Regions from separate parts of the Homo sapiens genome. Here region 2 is linked to region 1. A link means that fine-mapping ties the variant in region 1 to the expression of a gene that starts in the linked region. Tissue or cell type: lung. Region 1 holds a variant in brackets; the other region holds the start of a gene. All regions are shown on one strand. Distances are from middle to middle.

Region 1 (4,535 bases):
CTTCATTTCTCTATCACTTTGTTTGTTTACTCATTCCACAAATGATCATTAAGCCCTAGCTACATTCCAGGTACCCTGCTAAAGGCTGGAAAAACACAACTAAGACATGTTTTCCACTTTGGAGGAGCTCCCAGTCCGGAAGGAGAGAAAGACATACAAACAAATAATCATGAAGGAATATGAACTCCAAAAAGCTATGGAAATTCAAACAAGTTTTTATACTACCTGTCAGGTAGTCAATGAACTGAAATTCCCCTCCAGGAATGATTTCCTCCTCAAAACTCACACTTGAATTACATGAGATTGCACTAGCTATCCTGGTTCTATTACTATCATTGTTCTCCCTTATCGGTTTGTTTTTTCTCTTTAATAAGCGTAGGTATTATCTAAGGTTTTATACTTGGTTTCTCCTCTGTCTGTCTTCCTTTTCTCAGTATAACATCTATTCCCTGATGTCAGTTATTGTCAGTATGAAGCTCTAACTCTGACCTGTCTCCTAAGTTTCCAATTTACTTGAAGATCCTTAAACTGGACATCACCCACACCAAATTTACAACATTCCTAACACTCTGACTTCCTCTGCTTGATTTCTTGAATTCTCTGAATGGTTCCATGACTTCCCTTATCCATGCTTTAAACCCAAGCATCACATGAGACTCTTAATTCTTACTCATCCTCACATCAAAATGAGCACATGTCCTCTCTGTTTTGCAAAGGGTAGAAGATGAAGTGAGCCTCAGAAAATTCAAGATCTCTCAGATACTATCTTCCACTGCTAGTACCTCCCATCTACAATCTTGCAATCTCCTCTCTCCTATCCCTACTGTGAAGTTCTCCTTTTCCCGGGCAATCCCTATAGGCTAGCAATCCAAAATTTCTTTAGCATTCTTCTATTTATATCACTCTTCTGCTCAAAAGTATTGATTGCTCCCCAATGCCTGCTAACTTAAGTCAAATTTCCTCATTCTGGGACTAAGTACCTTTTGCAAAATAGCCACAAACTTGTTTTTCAGCCTCTTCTCCAACTACTTGCCCATGCTAGGCATAAGATGGAGCCTGGCGGATGGTTGATGGTTTCCAAGTGGATATCCTCTTAGTCACCCCTAGATCTTTACACATACTGTCCCTCCTGCCTGGAATATCCTTCTTGCCCATCTCTGCCTAGCCCATCAAGGTCAATCGCAAACATTGCCACTTCCACACAACACCTCTTCCTAATCCCCAGTTACATTCGGCTGATTCTCCCTTCAAACCTCCAGAACTCTTTTTTGTTCACCTCTAATGGCACGAATTTTGCCCTTTTTCTACTCTGTTTGCCTTATCCCCTTCCAGATTGAAAGCTCCTTGAGGAAACAGAATGTATCTTATTCCATCTTCATTATTACCCCCAGCACTTAGAACAACACTTGTTGAATCAAACGAAATTAATCCTAGAAACACCAGACTTCTTGCTGTTGTTTCAACTACTCTTCATTTACATAAATGGGCATTGTTCTCCAAAATATTTTTAATACAAGAGCTGACCTCATTATTGCAAGGAAAAGAAAAGCAACAAAAATCTCTGCAGTGCCTGCCTTAATAATATTAACATTTACTCCCTATTTCAATTAAACCATGAAACAATTTTTTGTGTCCCTGAGTCTGTGCTGTTTGTTTAGTGCTGGAATACAGAAATCAATAAGACCTAGTCCATCACCTCAAAGAACTCAGAGTCAAATGGGAAAGACAAACTAATAAACAAATGCATTGCAATACCAGGTAATATGTACAAGACTAAACATATGGGCAAAGCATGGAGGATGGAGGCAATACTTTAATCAAGGGGATCATGAGTGTTAGAGAAAACACACGTAGATGGAGCCAGAGTTGTCCCAGAAAGTAAAGAGGGGGAGACAGAATTTCATGCATTTGCATCTGCAAAGGCCCAGGGGCATGAAATAATACAGTGTCGTAGCAGGACTGTGGCCAGTTAATTCCTGCTGCCACATAAAATACATATGGCAGTGTCTCATGGGAAGAAGATAAAGAAGTAGTTGGTAGCCACACTGCAAATAGCCCTTCATACCTTACTAAGGAGTCTCTATTTTTCCTATAGATGATAGGGAGCTGGTAAAGAGTTTTAGGAAAGGCTAAGATTCTGACACTTAAATTGGATTTTCTTAAAATTGACTCAATTCTGATTTTTTAAAAATACTAGCACTGGCTAGAAAAAGGAGGTCAAGCCAAGATCTGGAGAAAAGGACTGCATTTTCTGAGGAATATGTATGCTTAAATTTATTTTCGAATTTGTATGTTGAGGGCCCATTTCCCGGTAAACCTACCTTCTACAAGAGCTGCGGCAGCAACAGTATGGAGAGCTGATATGCACGAGGTAGTTATTCCAAACATTTTTATACATTATCTCATTTAATACACCCAACAGTCATAGGAGGTTCACGGCTCAGAGGGAGAAACTGAAACGCAGAGGAGTCCAGCAGCCGTCCAGGATTCCCCACCTAGTGAGAGGGAGATCGGGGAGGAGGGGGCCCCCTAGGTAGCCTGCGTGTCACAGCTCCATGCAGTGCTGCGAAAACTGCGGAACATATCTGCGCCTTGTTTGTTTTCCTCTTCTTTTTAATGTGAGAACAATTATGTTTACTA[C/T]GTACTTCAGAAACCGGCCCTGCAGCCCAGTGTTGATAAAGAAGGGCTCTGAGACAGGCGCTGCTAGCACCGCAAAAGCCTTCCGGCTGGGAGGGGCTCCTTGCTACTCAGCAGAGAGCCTCGCGCTGTGGAAAAGAACGCGATTGTTATTCAAAACAAAAATATTCTTACCAGCACTGAAAACTACATTTACAAGTTAAGCACACGTTTTCTAAAAGTAGAGAAGATTCCAGGAGGGAGGGAGCATCTCTCGCAGCCTGGAGGGAGGAGACATCTAATTGCCTATTCATGAGGGAGCCGGTCTCTCAGGGACTGTAACATTTCCAAACAGGCTGTGCAGAGAATGGCAGCGACTGTGAAAACAGCAGGTCGCTGAATTCAAAACCTTGATGTAAACATATACATCACAAATCTCAATGCTCGCTTTTCATCAACTGCAGAATCTGTAATGTTAGCACTGTGGATCTTATATTGTGAGCTTTTGTGTATGGGTGCAGGTACACTTACAGGCGTGGAATTCACGTATGTACAGTCCAAGATATTAATGTAATAAGAAAGGTTCCAAAAACCACGTCTGAAAATCTGCTACATTACTTTGGAGTCACAAGTCACACACATGTGTGCATGTTCATGCATGCATGTGCACACCTACACACACACACACACACAGATAATACACATCTCTGGCTTTCTCTATTTGGGGGTGTGGAGGTGTAGAGTAAATCTCCCCTCTCTTCCTTGTATTTTCCCTCAAATTGCCCAAATTTTTGTACCTTTGAAAAAGCTGTGGGTCTCTCTCTGTGTTATCTTTGTACCTTTACAAAGGAAAGAATATGTCAGAAATTAATTGAACCAAACCTGCTGCAGAAAATGGACCAGTGCCTTGCACGACAAGACTCTTGCCTCCTTCTCAAATTTGAAATTTTGACTGCCTAAAGTTGTTGTGTAATGGAACAAGAATTCTAGTGAGACTAAAATATCTGCATAGCCACTTCAGTTTCATCCTGTTCTGTCTGAATGTAGAAAAAGCTAGCACTCCTCTATGTGAAGCTTCCCCAAACCCACTGCCTTCCATTCCAGGCTCGTTATGATGAGGGTCAAAGTGAGCTCAAGAAAGGTGCCATGTGTGAAATGGTAAAATGCTCTAAGGTACAGCTCCTCATTCCTGAATATGGTTTTGCAGGGCAAGGACAGGCATAGGGACTGCCAAGTTTTGATGCTGGGTAGGTTTCTAGGACCCTTATGCAGGGGGCATGGAAATGAGGTTCTAGGGAGAGCCCAAGCGCTAACTGGAAAGCTTTGAGGTTATAAGAAGTGAGAATGATGAAAATGATACCCTCTAGATTTGGAGATGACAAATGAAGGTAGGATGGTGCCTTGGGCACAGACATAAGGAGCTTGAGACCATGCCATGCTTCAAAAGTGAGAAATGGCTAAATTCCATTAAGGATCATGGAACTACACCATGATTGCTAAAAGAAAAAAAATACTCAACTGGCTACGTATTTTAAGAAACCAAAAGTTGCTGCATGGGACTAGCCTAAAAAGAGAAGTCAGGAGGTGAAGAGGGAGAAGGCAATGATCAGTTCAGTAAATAGTGGAGTGTCAGAAGAAAAGCATCCTTTGGAGACCTGAAAGCAGGGTCAGCTTTTCAAGGATGATCTAAGCTGATACTGGAAAAAGTTAGTTTGAATGCCATTAAACATAATCCAGTGGCTAGGATGTAAGTGGGCTCCTGATGTGAAGAAGAAAGAAGTCAAAGTTAGTCTATGAAAGTAAGCGGCTTAAGGGGCCCCAACTAAGAGCAAAAGATGCCCTTGATCAATAGCTAACATATGTGCCTCCAAATCAGCTCAGTGTCTCCATCATGTTTTCAAGGTATTAGCCACCACTGA
Region 2 (4,535 bases), 200 kb before region 1:
TAGATCAACATGTGGGAAAGTGCTCCTTATAGAAGGAGCACCACCAGGGTGTGTCAGTGTTGTTTAGCTGAGTGATGTTGAACAGCTCTGCCACTCCAACAGCTCACGCCCTCCAGCTACAGGGGAGGGTGGTAGCACCCAAGTGAAATCCTGTGGCCTGAAAGCATTCTAGGAGTCCAGCTCCCCCAGGTTTCTTGTGACTGAAGATGTCCTTATCACAGTCAGAGGAAGCGCTGCCTTGATCCTTTCTTTTAATTACTAGCAGTCATTTGAAACTGAGCTGCCAGGTGGAGGAGAGACTTTGAAGTTATTGTCATCTGGCCTCTTGGGAAATCAGAGTCTGCGAGGTCATAAGGAGAGAAAATTTTTGCAAATATTTCCTACTGCCAGGGGTGTGAGGTGAAGGGAAAATCTAACAACCACGACCCCTAAAAGAAAAAAGCAACAGATGTTGAAGCCTCCTCCCTTTGAATCTTGCGCTGGAGCTGTCTCTGCCATGGAGGTGGGCTAAAAATGCCTGTGAGTAGAGCCTTCCCCAAGCAGCAGGGTTAAGGCTCAGCACTAATCCCACATCTACTATCTATCTCCCAGTCATTCTTCCATCTATCGATGGGTCCATCAGAACTTTATTGATAACCTTTTCTAACCACCCACCTAGTAGGACTTAATCATTTCAGCGGTGGACTCTCTCTCTCAATGGAGTCAAATGGTCATTTGCTTGACGGAAATACTTCTAGTCTAAAGCAGTCTAGGGGGATTTTCAAAAACTGCACTAGTGCTCTGCGGGAAGCCTTTGTACGATTTGGCCTGACGTTTCCAAAACGGTTTTACAGCCTTCCCTCCTCCAGGACCTTGAACTCAACAATCTTCCTTCTTTCCCTGAGAGGCTCGCTTTCACAGATTCTCACCACGTAGTTCAAATATAGGGTCCAGATATAGTACGGTTGCTGTTGGGGTCTGATCAGGGGCGGGAAGACCTGGAGGTCGGTAAAACGGAGCGGTGCGGGATGATGTCTGGGAACACCGGCAAGGTGTCATAAAATGAACGCCAAGGCGGCCACAAGAGGACGGCCGGGAACCGAACCCAGCGCCCAGCACGGGGCCCTTGTGGCCGACGTGACGTGGCTCCGTCAGGTGGAAACCGTGCGATCCTCTCCCGATCCAACTCACGAGAGATAAAGATGTCTAAATAACCACGACCGCCGCCGCACACCCTGCAGGGCCCCGGGGGCGGAGGGGAGGGGAGCGCCTCCTCGGCAGAAGCGGCGGCCCAGGCTTGTTTGGAGGTTCGCAATTCACCATGATAAATGTAAAGACCAATTAAGGTTTGATCCGTGCACACAGGAGGCAGACGGCGGCTGATAGTGGAAACAATTAACGAGCATGTCCCCTAATTCCTGCCGCGGCTGCTGAGCACACCGCGGCTCCCCAGGCGCCCGCCGCTGCCGCCCCCGAGTCCCAGAGCCCCCAGTCCGGCCCTGGAGTGGGGCGTCCTCCTCCAGCGAAAAGGTGCGAGGAGCGGGGCCCCGGGTGGCCGGGGAGGGGGCGCGCCGGGCCGGGAGGCGCGGAGCCAGCCGCCTACGGAGCCCAACTGTTTGCATCGGGGACCGGCGGGCGGGGCGCGCCCGAGTGGTCTCGCCGGGAAAGGGCGGCGGGCGCTGGAGAAGGCGCCTGGCGCGAAGCTGGGCGGCGCCCCGAGGGCGGAGGACAGGTGGCCGCGCGACCGCAGCCAGGTAGCGAACGGCTCGGGGGCTGCGCAGCGCGGTCCCAAAGCTCAGCCCGGCCCCGGGCCCAGCTCGCTGCCGCCTGCCACGGGAGCGGCCTTGCGCGGAGGGAGGGGGCGCGAGACCGCACCCCCGGGCCCGGCGCGCCTCGGCCTCTGGGCTCCCGCTCCCCTTCCCCTTCCGGCTCAGCCCGCTGCCCCAGACGTGACCCCCGCGGAAGGTGTTGGCGATGCGCGCTGCCCGGGAGCGTGTGATTAATGGCCCCGAGGTCGTGGGCGGCGCATGCACCAGCCCCTTCTTGGCCTGGTCAGGGTGTGAGGGTATCCGGGAGCACAGCGAGGTCATGGCAGCGGGGGCCTCCGGGAGCGCGGCGGCGGAGGAGGAGGAGGAAGAGGAGAAGTAGGTGACGCGGGCCGAAGAGGCTTGTCCCCTCTGGCCCCAGGGCTGGCGCCGCGGCGGGTCCCCCGCCCCAAGCAAAGTTTGGGGCTACGGGCGCTGCGCTCAGGTCCCTCCCCGCGCAGTTCCCTCGGCGGGGTCTGTGCCGCCGCCGCTGCCAGGGCAGGACAAAGGCTCATTAACACGTGATGGGACCGCGCTTCATAAATGGGACTGGAGCGAGAGGGAGCCAGAGACAGCGCGAGCGGAGGGAGCGGCAGGGACTGCGCGAGCGGGACGAGGCGACGGGCGCCCGGGCTGGCGGAGACGGGCGGCCCCACGCCGGGCCAGGCGGGGCTCGCGGGAGGACCCAGTGAAGAGCCTGGGAAGGGGCGAGGCTCGCCGGCGGTCGGAGCAGCGGGGCGCCAGTCCCGGTCGCTGTCGCGGGCGGGCGCTGGAGACCGGGACGCCGGCGCTCGGACGGACTGACTTGCTGACCGCCCGCCGGAGGCACACCCCACTCCACCCCACCCCGCCTCGCCAGCAGCCCGGCGCCGGCGCCGCCTCCCGCACGCTACTCCCTCTGCCACCCCTTCCTTCTCCACTTCTTTTCCGCCTCCGCCTCTTCTTGTCTCCCGCGGCGCCAGCGCCTTCCCTTGGCCCGGGCGGGGGCCTCGGCTCCCTGCAGAGCTCTCCGTAGTCAGTGGGGGATATTTCGTTCTAGCGGACAACCAGCCCCTGAGCTGGGCGAGAGGTGCCAAGGGAGCTTCTGTCCCGAGGACCAGGGGATGCGAAGGGTAAGACCTGGCAGAGTTGCGTTTGGAAATACTTTTTCCGCCTCCCGCCCCCTCGGGTACGACCAGTGTGGTCCCCAAGTGTCCTTCGTGGAGTTCTTATTCCGTGTGAGCGAATCGTGCGTCGGTGTTTACTTAGCTGTATGGCCCCAGCCTGTTAACTGTGATCTGTTCTACTTCTGGAGATTTCTACCATTTACTATTTATTGAATGTGTGTGCACCTGGCTCTGTATGCACTGATGTCTGTTTGTAGAAAATGGGTAATTGTGCATGTTTGAAAAACGGGCGCTTGAGTTGGTGCTGAATGCCTATAAACCATGTTAGCAGCTAAGTCTTCCCAGGGAAATACATCGATCTCTGCTGCAAGCCTAGAAACTGACTAATGTAAAATAGTAAATGTCATATAAAGAGATGTATGTCAAATAATAAACTTTTGATAAAAAGCTACAGGAACCACTTCTCTTTGAGGAAAAACAAATGTCCATGTAACTAATACCTAAAATTGAATGTTGATGGAACCGTTTAACTCAGAACTAGCTGTTAGATGACTAAAGTTAATGTTGCATTTTTAAAAGACATTTCTTGTTAAGGCTTACAAATCATAAACGGATCACCTCTCAAATAAAAATATGTTTGCTGTAATAGACATGAGAAACTGTCATTTGGTCATTTGGAAGTTTAAAAGCAACATGCATGTTTCTGATTTTAATAGATTGTCTCTCAGATATTTAAAATTGAACAGATAAAAAAACAAAAGAAATGTTTAGTAACGTATTAATCATTTTGCCTCCCATCTTTTTTTATTTTCCTCCAAATAAGTGCTATTCTTGCCTTTGTTGTTGATTTCCTGATATAGTAAGCCTCCTCGGGCATGTAATCCAATAAGAGATTAGAACAGATTTACTGGTTTTAAAGGTGTTGAAAGATATCTCTGTGGGTCCCATAACTTCTCCTCATTTTTATTACCAAGTTAATATCTTTTGAACAATGGGGGAAATGCAATTTCTTAGAGGAAGCTTAGCGGACACTGAGTATTAGTGGGGTCACCACTGACATCAATCTATTTTGCAGAATATTGAGAAGCTCAGAGCAACCAACCTTTAAGGTTCCCATAGGACTTTATGTGATTTAAAGTGTTGCTTTTCTAATCCTACCCTACTGACAGTTTGCAAGGGAAGATACACTAATTGATTTTTCTCTGTCCTTTTTTTCCCTGGTACTCCTCCCCCTCCCCCGCTCTCTAACTCAGTTAAGAGCAATTTTATAAAAATAAAAGGCCATTTATAGTTTCTTAAGTGAGACAAATTACTTTCAGATTATATCCATACATGAGCAGAAGACATGCACCTCCAGAATTTTAAACATTGCATACTACAGGCACTTATTTGTAGGCACAATGGCAGTTACCATAGTGGGGCAAGAGACTTGATGTGGGACATGGTTTTAAAAAACTAATCCATTTTAGCTTATCAGGAGAACTTACTGTAAACCGACTCTTTTTGTTTCAAAGATGTCTCCCACTCCAGGCGAGGAGCGCTCTTGGCTGAGGTATGTATCAAGTGTCTGATGGGGAGAGGTCTCATTGTGTTTCTCAGTGTCCATGGGGGTACAATGATGCCACAAGGTGGAAATACCCAATTC

What was found. PIP is the estimated chance that this variant, and not a neighbour inherited with it, causes the effect.
Region 2: CNR1 starts here. The variant in region 1 is fine-mapped to the expression of CNR1 in lung (TOPMed, PIP 0.93).

What each region holds. Positions count from the first base shown.
Region 1 is chr6:87,966,922-87,971,456 of GRCh38, reverse strand. No RefSeq gene overlaps it. Among named protein-coding and RNA genes, the nearest start is that of SPACA1, 79 kb to the left of the region's middle. The variant C/T (reference allele first, on the strand shown) is at 2,641.
Region 2 is chr6:88,164,164-88,168,698 of GRCh38, reverse strand. It overlaps CNR1 (cannabinoid receptor 1), which reads left to right and starts at 2,352. Exons shown (of 2, transcript NM_016083.6): 1 at 2,352-2,896. RefSeq lists silencers at 1,226-1,425, 1,496-1,935, 1,996-2,675.